Linked DNA regions of Homo sapiens. The protein of the gene in region 3 interacts with the protein of the main gene of each other region in a pairwise test. Each region holds a gene or a part of one and is shown on either strand. Other genes may lie near its edges.

Region 1 (8,519 bases), on a different chromosome or scaffold from region 3:
CATGTTAAACAACAGGATCAGATGGGAGCACTTTGCAGCTAAGAGACCAATACCAGAAAAATACCCCTTTACCCCTTCAACAGCGTGCTCCTGCCTATTTACAAGAACATTTAGCATCATTTCCTTCTCAAATGGGCCATCCTGTACTCTGGAGCTAGAACAGAGTACGAGGAGAACACTGACATTCAGTGCCTACCAGTTTCTCTCCTACGGAGCTGCAGCAAGCTGGAGCTCCCATGAGCTGCACTGTTGACAGCTCTTAGTCAGGGATCACACCCTTGCCTTTACGAGCTATTTCTGTCATTTTATATAAAAGCACAAAGACACAGTGGTCAGCACGACAAGACTACAGCCTGGGGGAAGCGTAATCACTGTCAGAGGACATCAAATCCAACACACTGGTGGGATGGCAGGAAAGCAGACTCGAAAGTAGTTCAGAGTAAATGAGTCTCCTTGTTTGCTTCTTACTCATAACATTAGGCCTAAGCTGCTTTGCTGAAACACTTAGCTCTGCGCTTTCCAAGCGATAGAAATTATACTTACTCCAATGTGTGAGATGAAAACCCACTGCACACTGAGCTGAGCGACATTTGATGTGCAGTAATGCCACTTCAGGTGGTTCATCACATTGCTTTATTCATAAGGCTGGGGGACAGGGTGGAACCACACGAATTTAACATCTTGCTGTGCCTGAAATGTTCATTAAGTGTTCTTATCCGCAGTCACCTGCCCACCCCACAGAACCACTCTCCACTAATTTAGAGACTATAATCTGTGCACATTTAAATTACGATGAACAGGAACATTTCCACTGGAAAAACCATCACACATCTTTGATTTGCACTGCCAATTAGGTCTTCAGAAAAGGAAAAAAAAAAAAACCCTGATCATCTTACATATAGTAATTTGCCTTAATTGGTGCATAATGGATCGGATATAATTTGTGGGTAACCCCTACATGATAAATAGTTTATTTAACATTTTAGAACTACCAAAAATTAGCCTCATTGTGTGGCAGTAAACGCTCACTTCCAACTACACATTCTGGGACTTCTGAGTTTCCTAAGCATGAATTATGAATATCAGTAGTGGAAGTGCAAAGAACTCTCCAGCTTAACAACAGGAGTGACACATTCCAGAAACATTTTCTGATTACATTCACAAGGAGCTCCGGAGTGATAAATTCCAGATACATTTTCTGACTAAACTCACAAGGAGCTCAAATCTCCATCCAGAGGGTTTGTTTTTTGTTTTTAGTCCTGTAGCAACAGAAACTCCTAGAAGGTTAGGACGCCAGCCGGAAGTGGTGGCTCACGCCTGTAATCCCAGCACTTTGGGAGGCCGAGGCAGGTGGATCACCTGAGGTCAGCAGTTCAAGACCAGACTGGACAACATTGTGAAACCCTGTCTCTACTAAAAAAAAAAAAAAAATACAAAAAATTAGACAGGCGTGGTGGCGGGCGCCTGTAATCCCAGCTACTCGGGACGCTGAGGCAGGAAAATTGCTTGAACCCGGGAGGCGAAGGTTGCAGTGAGCCGAGGTCGCGCCATTACACTCCACCCCGGACAAGAGCGAAACTCCGTCTCCAAAAAAAAAAAAAAAAAAAAAAGGATGCTAATACACGGTAAAAGCCAGTGGCAAAAAATAAAAAATCGAACCCTGTCTCATTCCGTAGGCTTTACTGTTTCCCTTGCTTTTAATAGTTTATCTCACAGGAGGCATTTTAAAAATATTCTCAGAAACATCAACAACAGATTTTTCTCAAGCGACCATTTTCAGGAAGGCTTCAGAAATTACTAAAAGGCCAAAGCTACCGTTAGTGGCTCAGTCTTTGCCGCCAGACTCGGGCAGGTGACAGCGGTTTGGGCTCGGGCGCCGGGCACTCTGCGCCTTCCAACGCTGGCGGCCCCGCCTCCCCTTCTCCCGGGCCAGGCACGCAGGTGGAGGAAAGTAAACACCAGTCGGAAGCAAGGTGGAAGCAGTGAGTCTCGCGACTCTCAATAAAACAAGTGGAAAAAAAAAAAAAAACAATCCTCGCACAAAGCATCTCCGTGCTCCCACAAGCAGAGGCGTGGCTGCTTGTTTCCCTTTTTAAAGGTTGTATTTTTAGTTCTTATGAAAAATGTTTTTATTGCTTACTTCTAAGTAAACATGTATCTCCATTACGATAACGTAGAGAAAAGCTCTTTTAAGAAGTAAAAAGAGAAAACTGAAGTCACGTTCACATTCCCACTACTCACTGAAACGTTTGGGGGAACTTACTCAAGTGTTTGCTAATGAGTTTTAAAGACGAGTTAGGCCCTTAACGCGTAATTGGGGTCGTGCTGTGCATATGATTTGGGATCTTGCAGCTTGTTTAACTCGGCCCAATGACGTTACCATTTCCCCCAAATGGTTACTAATTCCTTGAAAACGTTTACAAAAGTTCTAGAATAAACACTAAAGTTATTATTTTTAAACTCCATTATCCAAGTTGGACTGGTCTGGCGATCGACTGTTAAAAAAAAAAAATTACAACTTTCTTAAGCTTCCTGATCTCTGTGCCAATTCCCGGAGAAAGTGTGGGGAGTGCACAAAAAAAGCCCCTCCCCCGTCTCACGAGGGCTGCAAACGCAGGCGCTGCGCCCCGCTAGCTCCCCGCCTGCACCCCCGGCGGCCACCCGAGACTGAGCAGAGCGCCAGGCTGAGCGCGGTTGTGTGCTGGGGCGACCGGCCTCTGTGGTCCGCGTAGCACAAACGTGACCCACTGCGCACACCTGCAGGGCGCGCCCACTCCGGCACTCAACCGGCTGGGCGCGCCAGATCCCCAGTGCCGCAGCCAAGGGCCACGTTTCCAGCCCAAGGCCAGCAGGACCGGGTGGCAAAGGGAAGTCAAACTGTGGGTGCGTCCGGACGGCGGCGGGCGGCCGGACCCTCACCTGGTAGCGAGTCGCCAACTCCATTCTTCCTAACCGGGCTCCAGTCTCCTCCCAGCACGCGGCCACGGGAGCCCGGACTCACCACGGCCCGGCGCACCAAGAACGCCCCGCGCCCGAGCAGCTAGCGCGCTCCGCCCGGAGCACAGGCGGGCCCCGGGAGGGGCGCACTTGACGCCCTGGACAGGGGGAGCGCGTTGCGCTGCCCCCTCGGTGCCGCCTCACTGGGCCTCGTGGCTCCGATCACGTTCCAACTTCGCGGCCACTGACCTTGTCTTCGCAGGCGGCGCGAGAGGGGGCTGCAGTTGGGCGCGGCAAGAGCAATTACCAGTGTTAGGGCGCCGGGCTCCCCCCTGCAGCAGAGGGAGGGAGTGGAGCCGTCCGGCGGGGTTTAGCGCGGGAGAAATGAGGGGGCTGTCCCGGCGCAGCCTCCAGCTGGCACGCGCGCTGGATACTTGGCAGGGTTTATTCCAGGTCATGCCCTGGGGCGCGAGCTTCTGCTGCAACCCCTGTCTCTGATCCAGGCAAATATTGTAGGGCGGCTTTGGGGCTTGTTTTGTTTTGTTGTTGTAACGGGGCAGGGTTCTCTTTGGGAAGATTCTGTCTCCCAAAACATTTGCTACAGGGTTCACTTTGCAGAACAGGCAACCCAGGTTTCTTTACCAAGGCCCAGGTGGACAGATGCAAACCCGCCTGAAACTTTAGACGGCCATTACACAGTAGGCCTCCACACCCACCAGACAAAGAGTTTGTAGAGGTCAGGAATGCTGACTAATTTAACAGAATTGACCCCGGCATCTACTAAGCATCAGGCACTGGGCTAGTCCTAGGAACAGAAGGGTGAACAAAAACAGGCCCCTGCTCTGTTGGAGTTTACAGCCTGAGAGCCAGTTACCAACCTAATTGCATTATTCTAAATAAATACAATAATGATGCAAATAAGTGTAATAACGATGTAAATTTTATAAATTAGATTTATAATTAATATTAATTTGATACCACTATCAATGACAAATGTAATGATGATGCAAATAAATGTAAATTTGGAGCGATGATGCCATGAGAAAAAAGGCAAGTGGTATTAATGGTGGTGTGAAATAGGAAGACAATCTGATAGAGGTCAGGGAATACTTCTTAGAGTTCAGATATGAAGAGTGAGGAATTAAGTTTGTGGAAATTGTGGGAGAGTTGAAGTAGAGAGTGGGGAGAATGGTAAATGAAGTTGTCCTGAAATCACAGCAGGTTTGCTGGACAGTGTTGCACACCTATTTAGAACCGTGGTCATAGGTTTACAGTAGAGCATCCTGTACGCATAGGACCTTCTGCAGCCCCTCTCAGCTGCTTAGGATCTGACGTTCATCTTTTCTTTATTGAACGAGTGAATGAAATTTGCCAAACATTTACTCAAGCTTGAAGAGAAAACATGGAAAAGGTTTCCTTCCTTCCTTTGGTTAGTTCAGCAAACAACATGTGTTATGTGCTTTCATGTTCCAGCCCTCAGTGTTCTCACTTCCTGGTGGTAGTAAAACCAATACAACATTGTGTGACTTAAAATGTTTTGTTTTTATTGGATAATGTTATTTATTCATTATGGCCACTTCATTTTTATTATGCTTTAGAGTTTTCCTTCACATGCAGTATCTCCTTGAATCCTCTCAATATCCTTCCAGATCCTTATTGTCCACATTTTTAAAATAAGGAAACAGAATCTAAGAAAATACATTAAGAGATCCCTGCCACCCTGCCACTAAGTGACAGCAGCAGACTGCCAAACTGAAAACCATTCCTTATGCCTCCAGATCCAACATTCTTTCCATTTTTCTGTATTTTTTCCCTTTGGCTGCCAGGAAGCTTAGAGTGAAAATTAATTCAATCAGAGCTCTTCTTCCTCTTTTTTTTTTTTTAGATAGTTGCTTCCTCATGAACTGCTGATCTTGTTTGCACTTCTTTTCATTGTAGGTTAAATCAAATCAATTTTGGAAAAGGGAGCACAAATTTGAAGCAGGTCAGATTTTGCAAAACACTTGAAGCAGCCTAGACTAGCTACTTCTGTATCAGGAAACCTGTAAGCTGTTGAACCTTTCTGTTTAGAAATTTGCCATAACTAACCCTAAGTCTTCAGATGACAACCCCTAAATTTTCTTCCTGTGCTTAGCAAAGCCTGTACACGTTTGATGGTATTTAGTAATTGATTATATAGTGGTGTGTTTTGTTTTGTTTTGTTTTGTTTTGTTTTGGTCAGGCTTTGGGAAAATCTCTAAGGAACCAGAGGATTTAAACATGGCACTGCAGTAATACTTTCTAATAATTATTACTGATAGGGTTCACGGGATGTGAGCACTGGGTTTCATCATGGCACTGCAAGAATGAGTGTCCCTTCCAGATGCAACAGTATACATATTGCAACACAGAAAAAGAAGACATAATGTTTGCAACTTCTTTTAAGAAGTCTGTCTAGAAATCCATGCTTGATTGCTTTTTAAATGTTTCCATGAGAGAGTAAAAACTTGGTCCCCAGTACCTTGAACAAGGTAAGAAATTTGTGATTAGAAGCCAAAGGAGTTAATAATGCCACACTAAAATATGCTGCTCTGGCATATTCACTATTTTTAGTTAAAAGCACTTAAAAAAAAAAAAAGCAGGTAGGAGAAGATCACTCTGAACTTAATGTTGTTTCTTAAAAGCAGGAGATAAAATTCCCCTATGAAAGCTGTCCTCCCTACACAAGAAGGAAAGCCACATTCTTATCAAAGACAGGAAATTGAAGCTGAGGGAAATCTGTACAAACAAACCTTGTTAAACTAACCCTTATCTTCTCAGTCACTTCTCCACCCAATTAACTACACTAGCCCATGCCCCTTTGCCTCATCGCATTTTCAGTTTTACTACTCTGTGCAATTCACTATATAAATGTCCAACTCAAACTTCATCCTGGGGTCTTCATTTCCTTAAAAAGGCACCCATGCCACATAAAACTTCGATTAGACAAATCTATATGCTTTTCTCTTGTTAATCTATTTTATGTCAGTTTAATCCTCAGACCCAGCCAGGACCCAAAAGGATGGAGATGAAGTTTTACTCCCCTACAAAGCCATTATTGAACCTCATTAAATGATGTGAGAGAGCTGTAATTGGATGTCAACCCTGGCCCACGATTTTTGCTTTGTAAAAGGAGCCCAAACATCTCTCCTCTATCTGAAGTAGTATCTCTGCCGTCCCCACAGAGCTTAGTTGTGGGCAAACTCCCTAGTCCTCCCCACATAACAGAAAATCGTGCTGGTTTGGTGCTCTGGACAACTCACCAGAGAATCTGCCTTCTGCAGAGAGCTGGAAGCAGCATGAGTCTATAGAAACTGAGAGGTAATTTCATTAGGTCTGCCTCCCCTGCTTGCTTTTGGTCATTTGCCTCTTGGTGTTGTTTCCTTTTCCCACGAAGTTGAAGGCTGCAGTAGCTGAACACCGCACCACTGAACACTGAGACTTAACTTCACTGGCTACTTTATAGATAACGTTCATAGGTCACCGTGGTAACTGTTGCTTCCATTTTTTTTTTTTCTCAGAAACTTAGGCCAGCTTCTGTCCAGTTCAAACTGGTTGAGGCCACTGACTCTTCAAGTGCCTGAGAGGTGGCCTTTTGATGTCAGAGGGTCAAAAACTCCACCCTGAGATCATGCTAACACTGCCATTTTTCTGTACATATGTCCTATATAATGCCATGAACTCTGGCTACATTTGTGCAGAATGAGCCTGTTACTTCGTTTTTTTCCCAGTGCCGATTACATTTCCCCATAACTCAGACCACCCCATTTCCCTAACCCATAAATATCCCTAAGCCTTATCTTCAGGGAGGCGTACTTCAGAGCTATTCTCCCACCTCCTCACTCCATGCCCTTGTGAATAAATCTTTTTTTTCTTTTGCAAAACCCATGTCACACTAATTGATTTACTGTTCAGGGCAGAACAGACTAGGACCTAGCTGGTAACAGTATCTGAGTACCACTTGGCATTGTATGTGGTCGTGAATAAATAAAGTGACCGTTAAACAGGAAAACATCACTGGTTGTTCTCTAGCTCTTGGTCTCTTGAAACTTCCATCTCATTGTGATCAGATAACACCTACCCTAGAATGGGGAGACCTCCCTAAATTTGAAACATTCAGATATAAAATTTCCAAGTTGCTACAGAATCAAAGATCTAGAACTGAGTCTTTTGTAAAATCATCATCTAACACTGACTGGGTGCGTTTCTGGAACGTTTTTCTTTATTATTATTACAACCCGGTATTCCATCTTCCTGACTTGGTATGTCAAGATGATGTTGTCACAACACTGTGATGAAAATCACCCTAATGGCTTATGACAAAATAACCTGGACAATCAAAAATCAGATCTGTCCATATATCAGATGCAGAAAAATACACATCATGATGAAACTTTAATGCCTGTGGTCTTTCAAAAAGTCAATAGTAATAGTGATATCAAGAATAGCAGCTAATTTAAAGAGTACTCACTATGCTCTAAGCCCTGTGCTGAATTAACCTTTGAATGTGTTCCCTCCTTGAATCCTTCAGCTGAGAGTTCTACATCTTTTCAAAACTAGTGCTGTAAAAGTAAGTGAAACAATATTTTCAAAGCATTTGGGATTTCTTAGAGATGCTATGTAAACTCCAAATACGATTAACGCAACCCATATTACATAGGTTTTTGTAATAGATGGTGCATTATTTATCATTTAGTATGTGAACATAAAATATTATTTTGACTAGGCACTGACAACAAATGAGCGAAAATAACATCTTATTCAATAATTCTTACCTTTCTATGAATTTAGGTCTTATAAAAGAAAATTTTTAATTTCCAATTAGTGGTATCAACAAAAGTACTCTGGTACGTAGTTTTTAAAGAACCACACTTTTTTTCATAATCATTTAGGCAGCATACTTAAAAATAATCTATAAAATGTCAATATACAGAGCTCAGAATAAATGTATCTATAAAAATAACTTTTACTTCTTAAATAACAAAAAGTCATAAAATATTTCATTAGTTCAATAGATAAATGCAGGATATTTTTAAAAGCAGTTTTTAATTTCTATTTTGTCAAGGCTAAAATAACCAACCATACAGTATTTCAGAGATGAAAGTCAAAGTATCAATATTTGTTATAATATTTGGAAAACTTTATTGCTTCAGGTATGGTAAGTAATCTCTATTTGCTAGCCCTGATTCAGTATTTGACAGGCAATAATAGAAAATCTTAGGTTATAAAATGGAAAATTTGGGATCAGAAATAGAGTAATACTATATTCTTTTTGTTTTTTTTCTTTTGAGACGGAGTCTTCCTCTGTTACCCAGGCTGGAATGCAATGGCGCGATCTTGGCTCACTGCAGCCTCTGCCTCCCACATTCAAGCGATTGTGCTGGCTCAGCCTCCCGAATAGCAGGGATTACAGACATGTGCCACCACTCCCGGCTAATTTTTGTGTTTTTAGTAGAGATGGGATTCCGCCATTTTGGCCAGGCTGGTCTGGAACTCCTGACCTGAAGTGATCCGCCGGCCTTGGCCTCCCAAAGTGCTGGGATTACAGGCATGAGCCACCGCAC
Region 2 (7,532 bases), on a different chromosome or scaffold from region 3:
TCCAACAACACAGTAAGTTCAGCAACTTAACCACTAGATTTCTGAATTCTATAAGGGCAGGGGACATGTTCTATTCATCCTTCAATTCCTAGCACCCAAGACAGTGTCATCACACAGTTGGCGCTCGATAAACATTTGACAAAATAAACTGTTACCATGTAAAATGTCCGAGTCATCTTCAACAAAATCAATGTCTCTCAAGTCCCATTCTGCATAATTGTCAAATTCCTGTTTAGGGGAACAAAAAAATCCCCACCCCAAACCCATCGGCTTTGATTAGTGTCTTTACAGCAGCCATGCTTTAGAAGTAAACAGAAAAAACACAAGCAAACAGTTGTTTAAAAAGTCTAAATATGGCAAAAGGCCACAATACTGGCACAGGTAATAGGAAGTCATGGGAAAAATCTAAGAGGCTTACAAGCAGTAGTGACAACAAAAAATTGGAATAGTTATGAGTTTAGGAATGAAGCTAAACATACTGCTCTAAAAACTAAAATTAGTCTGAGCTGGGCACAGTAGCATGCACCTATAATCCCAGCTACTCAGGAGATTTAGGTGGAAAAATCACTTGAGACCAGGAGTTCAAGACTGCCTGGGAAACAGAGCAAGAGCCTGTCTCTGAAATAAATAAATAAAGTCAATTCATTCTTTTTTTTTTTTTTTTGGAAACAGGGTCTTACTCTGTCACTCAGGCTGGAGTGCAGTGGTGTGATCTTGGCTCACTGCAGCCTCGAACCCCCAGGCTCAAGTGATCCTCTTGCCTCAGCCTCTCAAGCAGCTGGGTCTACAGGCATGTGCCATCACACTCAAGTTAATTTTTGGTTTCGGGTTTTTTTTGTTGTTGTTGTTGAAGAAACAGCGTTTTGCCATGTTGCCCAGGCTGGTCTCAAACTCCTGAGCTCAAGCAATCCGCCTGCCTCAGCCTCCCAAAGTGCTGGGATTTACAGGTGTAAGCTACCGCATTTGGCCAAACTATCTTTCAAGTTGTGAATTAGATGATAAATCAAGAGACTTGTGGCTACATTCACATGTCTTTTAATTCCATAGCTGAGCAAGGAACATATAGTTTTTATACACATTCATCATTCTTTATATACTTGTGGATATAGTACAGGAATCAGTAAACTACTATTCAGCCTACTGTCTGTTTTTGTACATAAAGTTTTACTGGAACACAGGCGTATTCATTTATTCTTATATTATCCCATGCTGCTTTAGCACAATAATGACAAAGTATAGTTACAATAGAAACTTTATAGCATACTAAACCTAAAATATTTACTATCTGGCCTTTAATAGAATAAGTTTGTCAACCCCTGATACAGTACAATCTTGAAAGCCCCTAGATGTACAATAAGAACCAGACTACAAGCCAGGTGCAGTGGCTCACGCCTGTAATCCTAGCACTTTGGGAGGCCGAGGCTGGTGGATTGCCTGAGGTCAGGAGTTTGAGACCAGCCTGGCCAACATGGTGAAACCCTATCTCTACTAAAAATACAAAAATTAGCCAGGCATGGTGGCAGGAACCTGTAGTCTCAGCTACTTGGGAGGCTGAGACAGGAGAATCGCTTGAACCCAGGAAGTGGAGGTTGCAATGGGCCAAGACCATGCCATTGCACTCCAGCCTGGGCAACAAGAGCAAAAACTCTGTCTCAAAAAAAAAAAAAAAGAACCAGACTATAGGAATTTCATACCTAAGGAAGTGGAAGCCAGCACTGATGCAACTTAAGAGGTGGGTTTGCTGGGGTTTTTTTGTTTTTTGGAGACAGGGTCTTACTCTGTTGTCTAGGGTGCAGTTTAGTGGAATGATCACCACTCGCTACAGCCTTAACCTCCCAGGCTCAAGTGATCCTCCCATATCAGCCTGCCAAGTAGTTGGGACTACAGGCATGCACCACCACACCCAGCTAATTTTTTATTTTTTGTAGAGACAGGGTCTCACTACGTTGCCCAGGCTAGTCTCGAACACCTGGACTCAAGCGATCCTCCATTCTCAGCTCCCAAAGTGCTGGGATTACAGGTGTAAGCCACTGAGCCTGGCCAGAAATAGGTTGTTTGTTTAAAGAATTTTTACTGTTCCATATGTGAAAATGTTTACAAATGAGAAAAGGCACTCAAACCTAAGAAAATGTGGCTGCCTAAAGGTCCTACAAATTATAGTGCCTTGAAAAATCTCCTTTTAGTGGTATGGAATCTATGGGTGAGACAGAAGGCTCATGAGAAACAAAAATGAATTTTTCCTACTTTGTGCTAAAAACACATTTATCCTACCTCAATGAAATCTGCTCGAGCTGGCATGTACCCGGCCATGTCCCGAGAAAGCAAGGAGTCAAAGGTAGGTCGGGGAGGGTCATCTGTAGCTGGAAGAATTTAGAAGGTTTCTGAGTTAACTAATACAATATTGGCATGAAAAAAATGACATAATAGTCCAAGAATAAATAAAATTTAAAATGGTTTTTATAAAAGGAAATGTGAAAAAGATAAAGTATTATGAAAACAGGTTTTTTAAAAAGAAAAACCAAGACTCAGGCAATCCTTTAAGTAAATATGGGGAAATTTCTTCTGATTTCTGCTTTCCTAAAATGAAAGGAAATCATGACTTTTTTCCTTTAATATTACAGAACCTAAATATTTACCGTTGGCTTCGGCTCCCTTATCCCTTAGGATGAACTTCAATTTACAAAACTCATCCAACTGAGAGGCAAAAAAAAAAAAAAAAAAAAAAGACGGGAAAAAAACAAACACTGGAATTGGAAGTTAGCTGAAATTAAGTCCTAGCTCCAACACACACTAGTCCCATGACCCTGCACAAACTAACCTGTCTGCATCGGTCTTCTCGAATGTAAAACAAAAGCACTTGCTCTGCCTATCTCACTGGGTTGCTGTTAGGAAACAAATGGTCTAATGGATTTGAGAACAAAGTGCTAACACCAAAGTGCTATCCAAATAGGAGGTATCAACCAGGCACGGTGGCTCACACCTGTAATCCCAACACTTTGGGAGGCCGAGGCGGGCAGATCATAAGGTCAGGAGTTCGAGACCAGCCTCGCCAACACAGCAAAACCTTTTCTCTACTAAAAATACAAAAAATTAGCCAGGTGTGGTGGCATGCACCTGTGGTACCAGCTACTCAGGAGGCTGAGGCACGAGAATCGTTTGAACCCTGGAGGTGGAGGTTGCAGTAAGCCGAGGTTGTGCCACTGCACTCCAGCCTGGGAGACACAGCGAGACTCTGTCTCCAAAAAAAAAAAAAAAGGAGGTATTACCAGCCTTTAAGTTAGTCAGCTATAAAACTGTTTCTAGAGAGTATGAGGAAAGAGAAAAGGGAAGTGAAAACATTCATATCTCATTACTTGTACCCTGAGAGTCATTCAGGAAAGATGGTCATTTATAATTCATCATGTTTTTGGTTATATTTTATTAAGAGACCCACTGGTCCCACACGCACATGAGATTAAAAAGTTCGCCATCACTGACACAACCAAGCGAACAAAAATAACAAACTGATTCTTGGGCTTGACACCAAGGCAATTAATAATAATGAGTCAAATACTGTATTCTCTAAGCAACTCATATGTATAATCATAAGCTCTCCAAAGGGATTGAAAAAAAACTTGCACTCATAATAGCATAGAAAAGGTTTTCCCTTTTTGACATCTTATTTTACAAAGGAAAGCACTAAGTTAACTGATATGTTCAAAGGACTCAAGGTAGGTGGAACTACACATTGGCTTCAAGCACCTTGATGTCCTGTATAGAACTCTGACCCTTAGAGTATGTTCCTTCTTTGCCACATTATAATCCTGACTCTTTTTTTTTTTTTTTTTAAGAGATGAAGTCTCACTCTGTCACCCAGGTTGGAGTGCAGTGATGTGATCTTGGCTCACTGCAATCTCCGCCTACCCGGTTCAAGTGATTCTCCTGCCTTGGCCTCCCCAGTAGCTGGGATTACAGGTGTCTGCCACCACGTCCAGCTAATCTTTATACTTTTAGTTGAGACAGGGTTTCGCCATGTTGGCCAGGCTGGTCTTGAACTCCTGGCCTCAAGTGATTTACCCGCCTCAGCCTCCCAAGGTGCTGGGATTACAGGCACAAGCCACCATGCTGGGTCGATCCTGACTCTCAATAGCTGCCATACTAACTCCTCCTATCTTCCGTGATATCATTAGCTGTCCAAGTCATCAAATCACTCTTTATCTGCTACTGAAACAGGGCCCAAGGATGAGCTAAGTATATCTTATCAAGATAGGGAGGCACTTACAGTGAAATGGAATGGCTGTGTCAGCAGTTTTTGCTTCCTCTGCTTGTTTCAGGTTCAGCAGGGTAGATGCAAACAGAGGGTTATTGATGAAATGCTTCATATAGTGCTTCTCACACTCCTCCTTGGTCTTGGTGCACATTTGATTGGCTACATCCTGCCTAGAGGATTGTGGGAAAAAGAGAGAAGTGGTACTTGTATTTACACATAATACTAAAAGCATCATTTGCTCTTTTCATATTTTAAGTCACATCCATATAATATACTCTCATATTTCCAAATTGATATCAAAAAGATATCAGCAGAAAAATGACATAAATATAAGCCTAGATTGGTGTAATCTGGTGTTCCATATCTTGCTAGTCTAAAACACAGAAATAATGACTAAAAAGTCCTTTCTTTTCCACTTAAAGAAAGATGACTGAGGCCAGGCGCAGTGGCTCACACCTGTAATCCCAGCACTTTGGGAGGTAGGTGGATCACCTGAGGTTGGGAGTTAGAGACCAGCCTGATCAACATGGAGAAACCCTGTCTCTACTAAAAATACAAAATTAGCCAGGCGTGGTGGTGCATGCATGCCTGTAATCCCAGCTACTTGGGAGGCTGAGGCAGGAGAATTGCTTGAACCCAGGAGGCAAAGGTTGCAGTGAGCAGAGATCACGCCATTGCACTCCAGTCTGGGCAACAAGAGCGAAACTCCATCTCAAAAAAAAAAAAAAATAATAAATAAATAAATAAATAAATAAATAAATAAATAAAGATGACTGGAAAATTTGTAAATTTTCCTGTGAGCTAGGCCCTACAGAAATAATTGCTGTAAATAATAAGAAGTGACTTCAGAACATTCAAAATATACAGAAATATAGTTTTATTTTGCCTAATATTTTACGGTTTACCAAACACTTAACATAAACATTTCTTTACTAGAGCTGCTATGAGATGCCAGACACTGAGCTAGAAACATTCACAACAGAATTTAAGTTAAACCTAGTATCAAATTTGTGGTATGGATATTGTTACTATCTCAATTTCAAAGAAGGAAAAATGAGGCCCAAAATAATTAAGAAACTTGCTTAAGAATCTGGCCAGGCATGGTGGGGCACATCTGTTATTCCAGCACTTTGGGAGGCCAAGGTGGGAGGATGGCTTGAACTCAGGAGTTCGAGACCAGCCTGGGCAACACAGTAAAATCCTATCTCAACAAAAAATACAAAGATTAGCCAGGGGTGGTTGCACACGCCGGTAGTCCCAGCTACTCGGGAGCCTGAGCTGGGAGGATCACTTGAGCCTGGAAGGTTGAAGCTGAAATGAGTCAAGCTCATGCCCCTGTACTCCACCCTGGGCGACAGAGCAAGATCCTGTTTCCAAATAATAATAATAATAATAAAATTTAAAAATTAGCTGAGTATGGTGGCGCACACCTGTTGTTCCAACTACTTGGGAGTCTGAGGAGGGAAGATCCCTTGAGCCCAGGAGTTCGGGGTTATAGTGACTGTGATCACACCACTGCATTTCAGCCTGGGTGATAAAGTGAGACTGTCTCAATAAAAAAAAATCCCTGACTTGAGCCAAGGTAATGGAGAGGTACAGGTGGAAGTCCTTTCCTCAAGGTCTCTTTTTCACAGCATTTCACTTGACCTCCCCTAAGGCATCACTGTGCTGTTTTGTGTACTTCAATCACTTGTATTTTTAAGTCCCCTGCTAAACTATAAGCTTTCTGAAGACAGGATGCATCTCATAATTCTTAGCTCTAGCCCACTCACTGCCAAACTTAGTGCCTTACCCACAGCGGATAGAGAAGCTATGTCTTTTTTATGTTCTTTGTTAAGAGGGAAGGAGGACAGAGAGGTTTAGACTATTTTAGAGAGAATGGTAAGCAAAAAATGAAAAACTAGGCCAAAGATGACTAGCAAACTCCTCACAAGTGATTACTTTTCTACCTCCTTTGGTATTTCTCATTGTACACAGTATTTTATGATGCTTAATAAATACTGAATGAATGAATACAAGCAAAATGTGAACTAAATTCAGGTCTCCTTCTTCAGGTCCCTGGACATAAGGGAGGCAGGCAGCAGAGTTTATTCTGATGAACACCAAGAAAGGTTATATACACTAGTAAGTCAGGACAGGGAGGACCTAATTAAGAGTCCTTCAGTAATAAGCTATGTAATCACAAGAAATCATTTCAACCCCCTAGGCTTCAGATAATTTGTGAACAAAATATATTCAATAATGCCTCTGCTATCTAGTTCATAAAATAAAAGCATCCATATGAAAGTGTTCCCAAAAGATAAAAACGAAAGTGGTAGTATTAAGTGGTGCTGCCCCCTAGGTCAACAGCAATAAGTGCTATTCAATTCCGCCGGTTTTGGACTAAGGCAGGTAGGTGTTTGAAAGCTAAAAACAGAGAATGCTATCAGGAAGTCTGTGAAACTTGAATCTTACGTATGACCATCTAGCTAAAGTCTGATTCACTTAAATGACTAGGGCATCTACAACTAACAAAAATTCATAAAATCAGAAGGGAGTAATAACTAACGAAACTAAACTTCCCTACTATTCAGAAAGGAATAATAATCAATCTTCCCACTGTTGATACATCCAAAGTGGCCTTTTAAAGCTGCTCAGTCATGGACCGCTAAACATCCCATATCCTCGTGACACATTTCGACACTGGAAAAATAATGTACAGAGGGGACTAACTTGCCTCTAAATCATGGGTTGATAGGAAAGCAACACATACTTTCTCTTCCTGAGGTTCCTTCCTTTACTCTTCAACAACAGCTTCTTCTCTGAGTCCACTAGGGCAGGACAACTCTTAACACCAAGCTCTTACCAATTTCCAAAGCCACAGTCCATCACAGCTTCTAAAAGGGCCATTTCTTCTTGAGCAGTCCAGCTGGGATCAAGGACAGGAAAATCTGAAGTCTAAGGAGAAAAAAGTTTTGCTTAAGAACAGAGATACAAATGGAATCTAGGGGCCAGGCACGGTGGCTCACGCCTATACTCCCAGCACTTTGGAAGGCGGAGGCGGGCGGATCACCTGAGGTCAGGAGTTCGAGACCAGCCTGGCCAATATGGTGAAACTCCATCTCTACTAAAAACACAAAAATGAGCTGGGCATGGTGGCACACGCCTGTAGTCCCAGCTACTCAGGAGGCTGAGGCAGGAGAATCACTTGAACTGCGGAAGCAGAGGTTGCAGTGAGCTGAGATCACACCACCACACTTCAGCCTGGGCGTCACAACAAGACTCTGTCTCAAAAATCAAAAAT
Region 3 (7,493 bases):
GTGACAAACACATTTGCCACACGAAGGGTACAGCCTTACCACACCTGCTATGCTGTTGCACTCAACTGCCCACTCTCATGCTCACCTCGCCATCACACCTCCTACAACTGTTGGGCCTGGGGCAAGGGCAGGGACCTGTCACAGGGTAAGGCTAATCTGAGCCTTGACAACTGGGTTTGGGCAGGCTCCTGCCCAGGCCTGTGCCCAGAGACAGCTGCAGGGGCCTTGATGGCTGAGGAAAGGGTCGAGGGACCGTGCTGGAGACCCACCAGTGTGAGGCCACCTACGTCTTGTACACATCCTCCCTGGGCAACTTCCCCTCAGCAAAGTCCAGGGACTGGAGAGTCCTGCTCGAGGCAGCTGGATTCAAGGGAGCTAGACCTAGGAGGCAAGGCCCCGGCTGGGCTTGGGCTGCTGTCCACAAGGGACGGGACTTTCCACCCCCATGTAGGAGCGTCTCTAGATTCACATACAAACGTTAGAAAAAATACCCAGCATAAAAAATAGCCTTTATTTATCTGTGACAACACCTGGTAATAGCTAGGCCAGGATTCATGGGCCCCCATCAGCTTGACCCCTGCCCAGGAGGTTTCCACAGTGCAGGGCAAGAGACCTTGACCTTGAGCACCTGTTAGTGACAGTGGCTGCTAGGAGTGGTGGGTCAAGGAGCCCTTCTCCTGCAAACTCATGCCCGGTCCTACTTTTGAGGAGGTCACCTCTGGACACAGTGAGGCGGGAGATGAAGAGGCAACTGGAGAGAGCTCAGGGAGAAGGTAGCAGGAAGAGCGGGGGTAGGGGGAGGAAAGTGGAGGTGTGACAGGGCCCCTGAGGTGGCCCTGGCTGCAGGCCACCTCCACCACAATCCCTGGCGTGGGCAGGGTGAGGTGCAGGCCCTGCCAGGGCTGGGCCCTCTGGCTGGAGCTCAGGGAAACAGGTGGGTTTTGTAATTTGGGATCTGAGTCAGGTGCCTCCTCCCTGGAGTGGAGTGAGGGGCTGGGGACATTGGGCTTCTCCGTGGGTGTCACCTTGAGTTTGAATCTGGTGGCCACCTGGGCACTAGACATGGAGGGGGAGCCTCCTCTGTCCTTGCGTTTTCTCTGAAGCATCTTGGGGCTGGAGACTGTGGGGCGGGGGGAAGCATAGGGCTGCCCGCCATTGGTGGGTTTAGCTGGCTCAGAGCCCAGAGGCGGCAGATCTGAGGTGGGCTCCAAGCTGGTGGGGAACAGAGGACGGCCGTCGCGGCAGTGGGCGCCACGGAGCTTATCCACAGCCTGGCTGACCACGCTTTGCAGGGCAGGGAAGAGGCGGTGGTCAGCCAGGAAGTTCAGCGTGCGATGGGGCTCACGGAGCGGACAGTAGCCAGGCAGGTCGAGGGACTCCAGCTGGCTCAGTAATGACTTGATCTCCTTATTGAACTCTCGCTTGCGGAAGATTGGCTCCTGTTCTCCAGGCCTCGGCTCTGATGCTTCAGGCACGCCAGAGCTTGAGCCCAGCAGCCCTGAGAACCAGGACAAGGGCTGCTCCTGTGTCCACTGAAAGCTGGTCTGGCTACCCAGCGAATCCCACAGCAGGGAGTCCCTCTGGGAGCAGGACTGACTGAGGCCTTTCTGCAGAAAGAGGGTGACTCTGTGAAGTGTTCAGGAGCAGCCAAGCCAGGGCTGACCCTAGCCCTGGGCTCTCCATGGGAGTCCACCCCACCCAGCCATGGCCCTGGCTCTCACCCCTTCCCTCTCCAGCTGTAGCAGCCGCTTGAGGTTCTTCTCCAGCAGGAGTTTGTCCCTCACAGGTGGCAATGAGCCTTGGGCACCTAGGTCACTGTCCCGGCTGTGGGAGCCCAGACAGCCGGCCATGAGGCTGCTATGGCAGTTGGACATGGAGCTGGAGCTGGATGGGTAGTTGTTGGGGTGTCCAGTGCAGAGGGTCGGCCGTACACGGTGCCGGTGTACGGTGCTGAGGCTGGGCCGGGCATGTGCCCGCCGTCCACCACTTGGCACCTCCACTGGGTCCTGCACCTCCACAAGCGGCACCCCAGCCTCCGTCTTCATGGCAGCCATGCGCTCAGTCGCCTTCTCCACCACTGTCTCCAGGCTGTCCAGGACCTGGCTCTCAGTTAGGAAATCCAGAAAGTGGCCAAAGGGCTGAGGGTGCCTCTTGTTTCGGCGTTGGCCCTGGAGTGCTGAGCTGCCACATGTGGATGGTGGGTGTGGCACACGGCCCGGCTTGCAGGCTGGCCGCATTTCTGGGACCAGTGGCTTCTTGGGCAGCTGCACCTGAGCAGACAGGTATGTCACAGGGGGCAGGGGTGCCCTACAGGTGAAGGGTTCCCTGGGGTAACACTAGGACCTGGGTGGGAGTGAGTAGTGGAAGGAGCTGCATTTTGGAGTCTGGAAGCCCTGGGTTTGGACCCTGGCTCTGCCACCTACAGCCTGATGCCAGTGTGCAAGATGGCCCCTCTTGAGGTCCAATGTCCTCATCTGCAAAGTGGAGGTCTATTCAGGGTCACCCCGAAGCTTTCCTAACACCTACATTTCACACACACAAGTCCTGGCTAAGGAGTCTGCAAGCCTGCTTCTGCCCTGACACGTGGCAGGATGAGCAATCATGAATCTCTCGGAGTCTCCCTCCAGCTCCTCATCTGTCCATGCAGCAGGCCATCCCTGTATCCATGGCAGGGCTGCAAACAACATCTGAGGTCTTGAGTGCAGACAACACCTGAGGTCTTGAGCCCTGTGCTACCCGGGCCTGTTTCTCCAACTTGAGCCATAGGCACCTAGTCAACTCCATGCTCCCACTCTAGGGTCCCAGTCCACCCAAGCACCTTCTGGGTCGCTGGAAGTCAGGAGGAAACAAGGAATGAAATTGAGTGTGACAGGGGCAAGCAGTGGGGGACATAGGAGAAGTCAAGGCAATAAGGACTTCACTAAGAGGCCCAGAGAAGTCAATAGACAATGAGAAATGGGGGTTGTGGTCTTGGGTGCCAGGGTTGGTGGGGAACATGTTGTGGCCTCAAGGGTCGGCGCCCTGCTGGGCACACTTACCCGTGCACTGCACATGGAGTGGCTGGCCTCGTCATCGGCCAGGTAACCCGAGTGGTGGCGGCACCTGGCCATGTGGTCACCTGGCAGGTGACCGGGCCTGCTGCCCACCTCTCTCTTCAGCTGCGCATTCCTCTCTGCGTGGGGTGGGGAGACAACCTGAGGGTCTCCAATAGGTCCACGCATCTGTGGCCCTGGAGTCTGCGGGTCCCTCGCTCCCCGCACCCCGCCTCCTTCATGCATCCAGCCCTTCCTCTGCTCCATGGCCCCCATGCGTCTGCAGGCAGGCAGTTTCCAGAGTCATCGGGGTGGAATCGCTGAGGACAATCCTGTCTCCGATCATCTTTGGATCTGCGTGTGCTCGACCCGCCCTCCTCCCAAACCCTGGGCAACCTGGCTTTCACCCCAGCCCAGAATCAACAGACTCACCAGAAACACCGCCTTGCTCCGCACAGGCCAGTACAGTCTGCGCCCTCACTGGAGCAGCTGCACAGTGCGAGGAAGTCGGCTGGCGGCCTCCACTTGCTTATTTGCATACCACATCCTCATTGGTTCTTACCGAGGAGCTCGTCCACTTCCCTCTCCGACACAATGGTTGGGGGCGGGGCCCACATTGGCCCCACCTCCAATTCTCTGGGCTCTGCCCTCCCACACTCGCCTGGGAGCCGCAGGCTGAGGATGCTGGTGCCCACGCTCCCCGCTGCCGGGAGGACCCCCCACCCACCACCGAAGCTGGGGCTAGGCTCTTTGATCTGCTCCTGCCCCGAGGGGAGCCTAAAAGCCAAAGCCACGTCTTCCACCGGTGGCACAAGCACCTTCCTCGTGTCCTCCTTGGTTGCTGCGCAGCCCTGGGCCTCCTGCTCCTGTTCGTTTCCAGGGGCCTCTGCCCTTCCCGCGGTGTGCACAGCCCCAGGTTCTGCCTTGAGACCTCTCCCCTCTGCAGTGGAAAGAGTGCCGGCTCTAAGTCACAGACCTAGCTTCAGTTCCTGGCTCTGCTCTTTCCTGCCAATGTGACTCAACCTCTCAGCATTAGTCCCACACTGTAAATGGGCTTGAGTGTTCTTCCAATATGGGAGTATGGGATTCAATAAAATCTCCCTACAGCACACCCAGTAACCCAGTGGAGCCTTGTGTATTCTTTAATTAATTAATTTATTTATTTGGAGACGGGAGTCTCGCTCAGTCGCCCAGGCTGGAGTGCAGTGGCGCAATCTCGGCTGACTGCAAGCTCCGCCTCCCGTGTTCACGCCATTCTCCTGCCTCAGCCTCCCGAGCAGCTGGGATTACAGGGGCCCGCCACCACGCCCGGCTAATTTTTTTGTAGTTTTAGTAGAGATGGGGTTTCACCGTGTTAGCTAGGATGGTCTCGATTCCCTGATCTTGTGATCCGCCTGCCTTGGCCTCCCAAAGTGCTGGGATTACAGACCTGAGCCACCGCGCCCAGCGGAGCCTTGTATATTCTTACCTCCTCTCCCTCCCTCCTTTTCCCCTTTGCTCAGTAATACCCCACCATGGTGTCACTTCTTCCAAAAACCTTTTACTGTGAATTCTGCCACGCCCTACGCAATTCACAGTAAACCCCATTCCAGACTCTACCATACCATGTTGCTACTTATTTTTCTATCAGATGGTGCTTCTTTGGGGCCAGAACAGAGGCAAGTCACCCTTAATCTCTAATACTTTCAGTGTCTGGCACCAAGTAGGTGCTCAATAAATGTCAGTCTCCTCCTTCCCACCTGCAGACCCTCGGGACCTCTGACCTTTCCAAGATCAGCTTCCAGTGGAGAACGGTGGTTGGTTGAGGTCTGACAATTCACCAGTCACTATAAACACATCAGTCCTTATGCCAAGAGCATGGCTGAAGGACTCTATGAGGCTTTCAATCCTCACATGCCTCACGAAATATTGTTCCTCTCAAGCTCTGCTCTGTCCTCTCAGCTCTGGCTACCCACTAGGTCAGGGACAGAGAGGACATAGCAGGCCTGGGTGCTGGCCCCGAGGTGTGAGGTTCAGTCTTAGCTCCACTACTCCTGGCAGGACCACACTTTCGCTCTCTGAACCCCAGTTTCCTCATCTGTGAAACAGGAATGACATTACCAATTTCATAGCCCGGACACAAATACCACACTTTCCATGGGAAAAATCAAGACTGTCACATTGCAATGGAAACTGTGGCTGCCAACCATAATGACTATTTATACAGTCATGGGTAAGGAAAGCTTTTCTGGACCAAAGAGAAAACAGTGAAGTTATGAATGTAAAAGCTGTAGCCTGGCAGAGAGCTCAAGATGGAAACTGGAGATAATGTTTTCTCAAATGAAGCCTTAGTGTATATGCTTTCTTTCATTTTCTTAGTGTCTAGAGCTCAAGAAAAAAAAAAAATCAACAAATCAAGAAAATGCCTGCTCTTAGAAAAATCTGCAAAAGATCAATAGGCAATTTGAAAAAGAATAAAAATAGCTAATAATATGAAAATTTTCATTCGCACTGCTAAGAAACTACTAGAATGTGATAACATTGATATAATCATCTTTATGTTCTCAAAACAACACACAAAAAAGTTGGGTTGGGGAGAAAGGGAGTTGGGTGTGTTTATTTGCTTAGAGAAAACACTGGAAGGACACAACCCAGAAAGTTTACAATGGCAATCTCTGGGAAGGGTAGGAGATTCTTTTTTTTTTTTTTTTTTTTTTTTGAGACGGAGTCTCGCTCTATCGCCCAGGCTAGAGTGCAGTGGTGCGATCTCGGCTCACCACAACCTCCGCCTCCCGGGTTCAAGCCACGCTCCTGCCTCAGCCTCCCGAGTAGCTGGGATTACAGGCGCGTGCCACCACTCCCGGCTAATTTTTGTATTTTTAATAGAGACGGGGTTTCCCCATGTTGGCCAGGCTGGCCTTGAACTCCTGACCTCGTGATCCACCCGCCTCGGCCTCCCAAAGTGTTGGGATTACAGGCGTGAGCCACTGCGCCCGGCTTCCTTTTGATATTTTACATATTAAATATCACTTTTGCAGTCAAGGAAAGTTCCGCATTGCAATGAATCCATCACTGGTCTGGTTAGCGCGGGAGCAGTTGCCGGGTCCTTGCAGGGGCACGCCGGACCGCTAGGTGGCGAGAACAAAGGCGAAGTGCAGCCGCACCTGGGCGTGTGCGTCGGGGCGGGGCCCGGGCAGCGTCCGGGGGCGGGGCCTGGGCTGTCCGGCCCACTCCCCTGGGAGCGCGAGCGGTGGACCCAGGCGGCCATGTCCCGCCCTCGCATGCGCCTGGTGGTCACCGCGGACGACTTTGGTTACTGCCCGCGACGCGATGAGGGTATCGTGGAGGCCTTTCTGGCCGGGGCTGTGACCAGCGTGTCCCTGCTGGTCAACGGTGCGGCCACGGAGAGCGCGGCGGAGCTGGCCCGCAGGTGAGGGGAGGGCCTCTAGCAGGGCGGCGATCGGCTTGGGGCGCGCGGCTCCGCGGCCGCTAGTGCTCCAGCTCGCGCTCCGCCCTCAGGCACAGCATCCCCACGGGCCTCCACGCCAACCTGTCCGAGGGCCGCCCCGTGGGTCCGGCCCGCCGTGGCGCCTCATCGCTGCTCGGCCCGGAAGGCTTCTTCCTTGGCAAGATGGGATTCCGGGAGGCGGTGGCGGCCGGAGACGTGGATTTGCCTCAGGTGCGGAGCCGCAGCTACAGGAGGATGCTCGCGAGGACCCCCAGAGCTCCGCCCGGAGGGTACTGTGAGGCCGTTAGGAGCTGGCGGTGGATGACTTCCGCATTCAAACACTGGAGCCATCACACGGAAGCACGAGGAGGGTATCCTCGGCAGCTACTCCCGGTCGCTCAAGGTGTCTCTCGCTCGCCCTCTAGGTGCGGGAGGAGCTCGAGGCCCAACTAAGCTGCTTCCGGGAGCTGCTGGGCAGGGCCCCCACGCACGCGGACGGGCACCAGCACGTGCACGTGCTCCCAGGTGCGTGGTTAGTGATCCCAGTTTGGAGGGCGTTACTCCCAGGCGGGGCTGGGGGAGTAGGGGAAGTTCGATGCCCCCAGGTGAAAGGACGTGCTCCTCCCTGACCCGCTCCGCCCGCAGGCGTGTGCCAGGTGTTCGCCGAGGCGCTGCAGGCCTATGGGGTGCGCTTTACGCGACTGCCGCTGGAGCGCGGTGTGGGTGGCTGCACTTGGCTGGAGGCCCCCGCGCGTGCCTTCGCCTGCGCCGTGGAGCGCGACGCCCGGGCCGCCGTGGGCCCCTTCTCCCGCCACGGCCTGCGGTGAGGCTCCCCGCCCCGTCTCCTACCATAGCTGCCTCTGTCCCTCCGCACTGGCTGTTCACCTGGCTAGCTGTGTCCGTTTCTCAACCCGGAAGCGAGTCTGGCGTCGACCGCTGCCGCCACCCCAGTTACCCCCTCCCACCCCGCCGTCCCTTCCCTAGCCTACCTAGCCCTTGGCCATGGCCCGGCCTGGTCCCACCTCTGATGTCCC

Evidence for each region. The genes of interacting proteins can lie anywhere in the genome.
Region 1: the proteins of CCDC116 (region 3) and CDCA7L interact in binary tests that used the Homo sapiens proteins (3 or more experiments, as listed by UniProt).
Region 2: the proteins of CCDC116 (region 3) and TADA2A interact in binary tests that used the Homo sapiens proteins (3 or more experiments, as listed by UniProt).

The regions. Positions count from the first base shown.
Region 1 is NC_000007.14:21,942,862-21,951,380, forward strand, and holds the start of CDCA7L (cell division cycle-associated 7-like protein), read right to left. Parts: upstream 3,039-8,519; 5' UTR 2,944-3,038; coding exon 2,920-2,943; intron 1-2,919. UniProt on the Homo sapiens protein: Plays a role in transcriptional regulation as a repressor that inhibits monoamine oxidase A (MAOA) activity and gene expression by binding to the promoter.
Region 2 is NC_000017.11:37,437,392-37,444,923, reverse strand, and holds part of TADA2A (transcriptional adapter 2-alpha), read right to left. Parts: intron 7,187-7,532; coding exon 7,095-7,186; exon of another isoform or gene 6,966-7,094; intron 4,420-6,965; coding exon 4,262-4,419; intron 2,361-4,261; coding exon 2,272-2,360; intron 229-2,271; coding exon 156-228; intron 1-155. UniProt on the Homo sapiens protein: Component of the ATAC complex, a complex with histone acetyltransferase activity on histones H3 and H4. Required for the function of some acidic activation domains, which activate transcription from a distant site. Binds double-stranded DNA.
Region 3 is NC_000022.11:21,628,799-21,636,291, reverse strand, and holds the start of CCDC116 (coiled-coil domain-containing protein 116), read right to left. Parts: upstream 3,533-7,493; 5' UTR 3,465-3,532; intron 3,313-3,464; exon of another isoform or gene 3,309-3,312; coding exon of another isoform or gene 3,111-3,308; coding exon 3,039-3,110; intron 2,271-3,038; coding exon 1,722-2,270; intron 1,608-1,721; coding exon 1,026-1,607; coding exon of another isoform or gene 648-1,025; exon of another isoform or gene 489-647; intron 1-488. Other genes in the region: YDJC (carbohydrate deacetylase), read left to right, coding at 6,278-6,441, 6,531-6,690, 6,885-6,984, 7,105-7,282.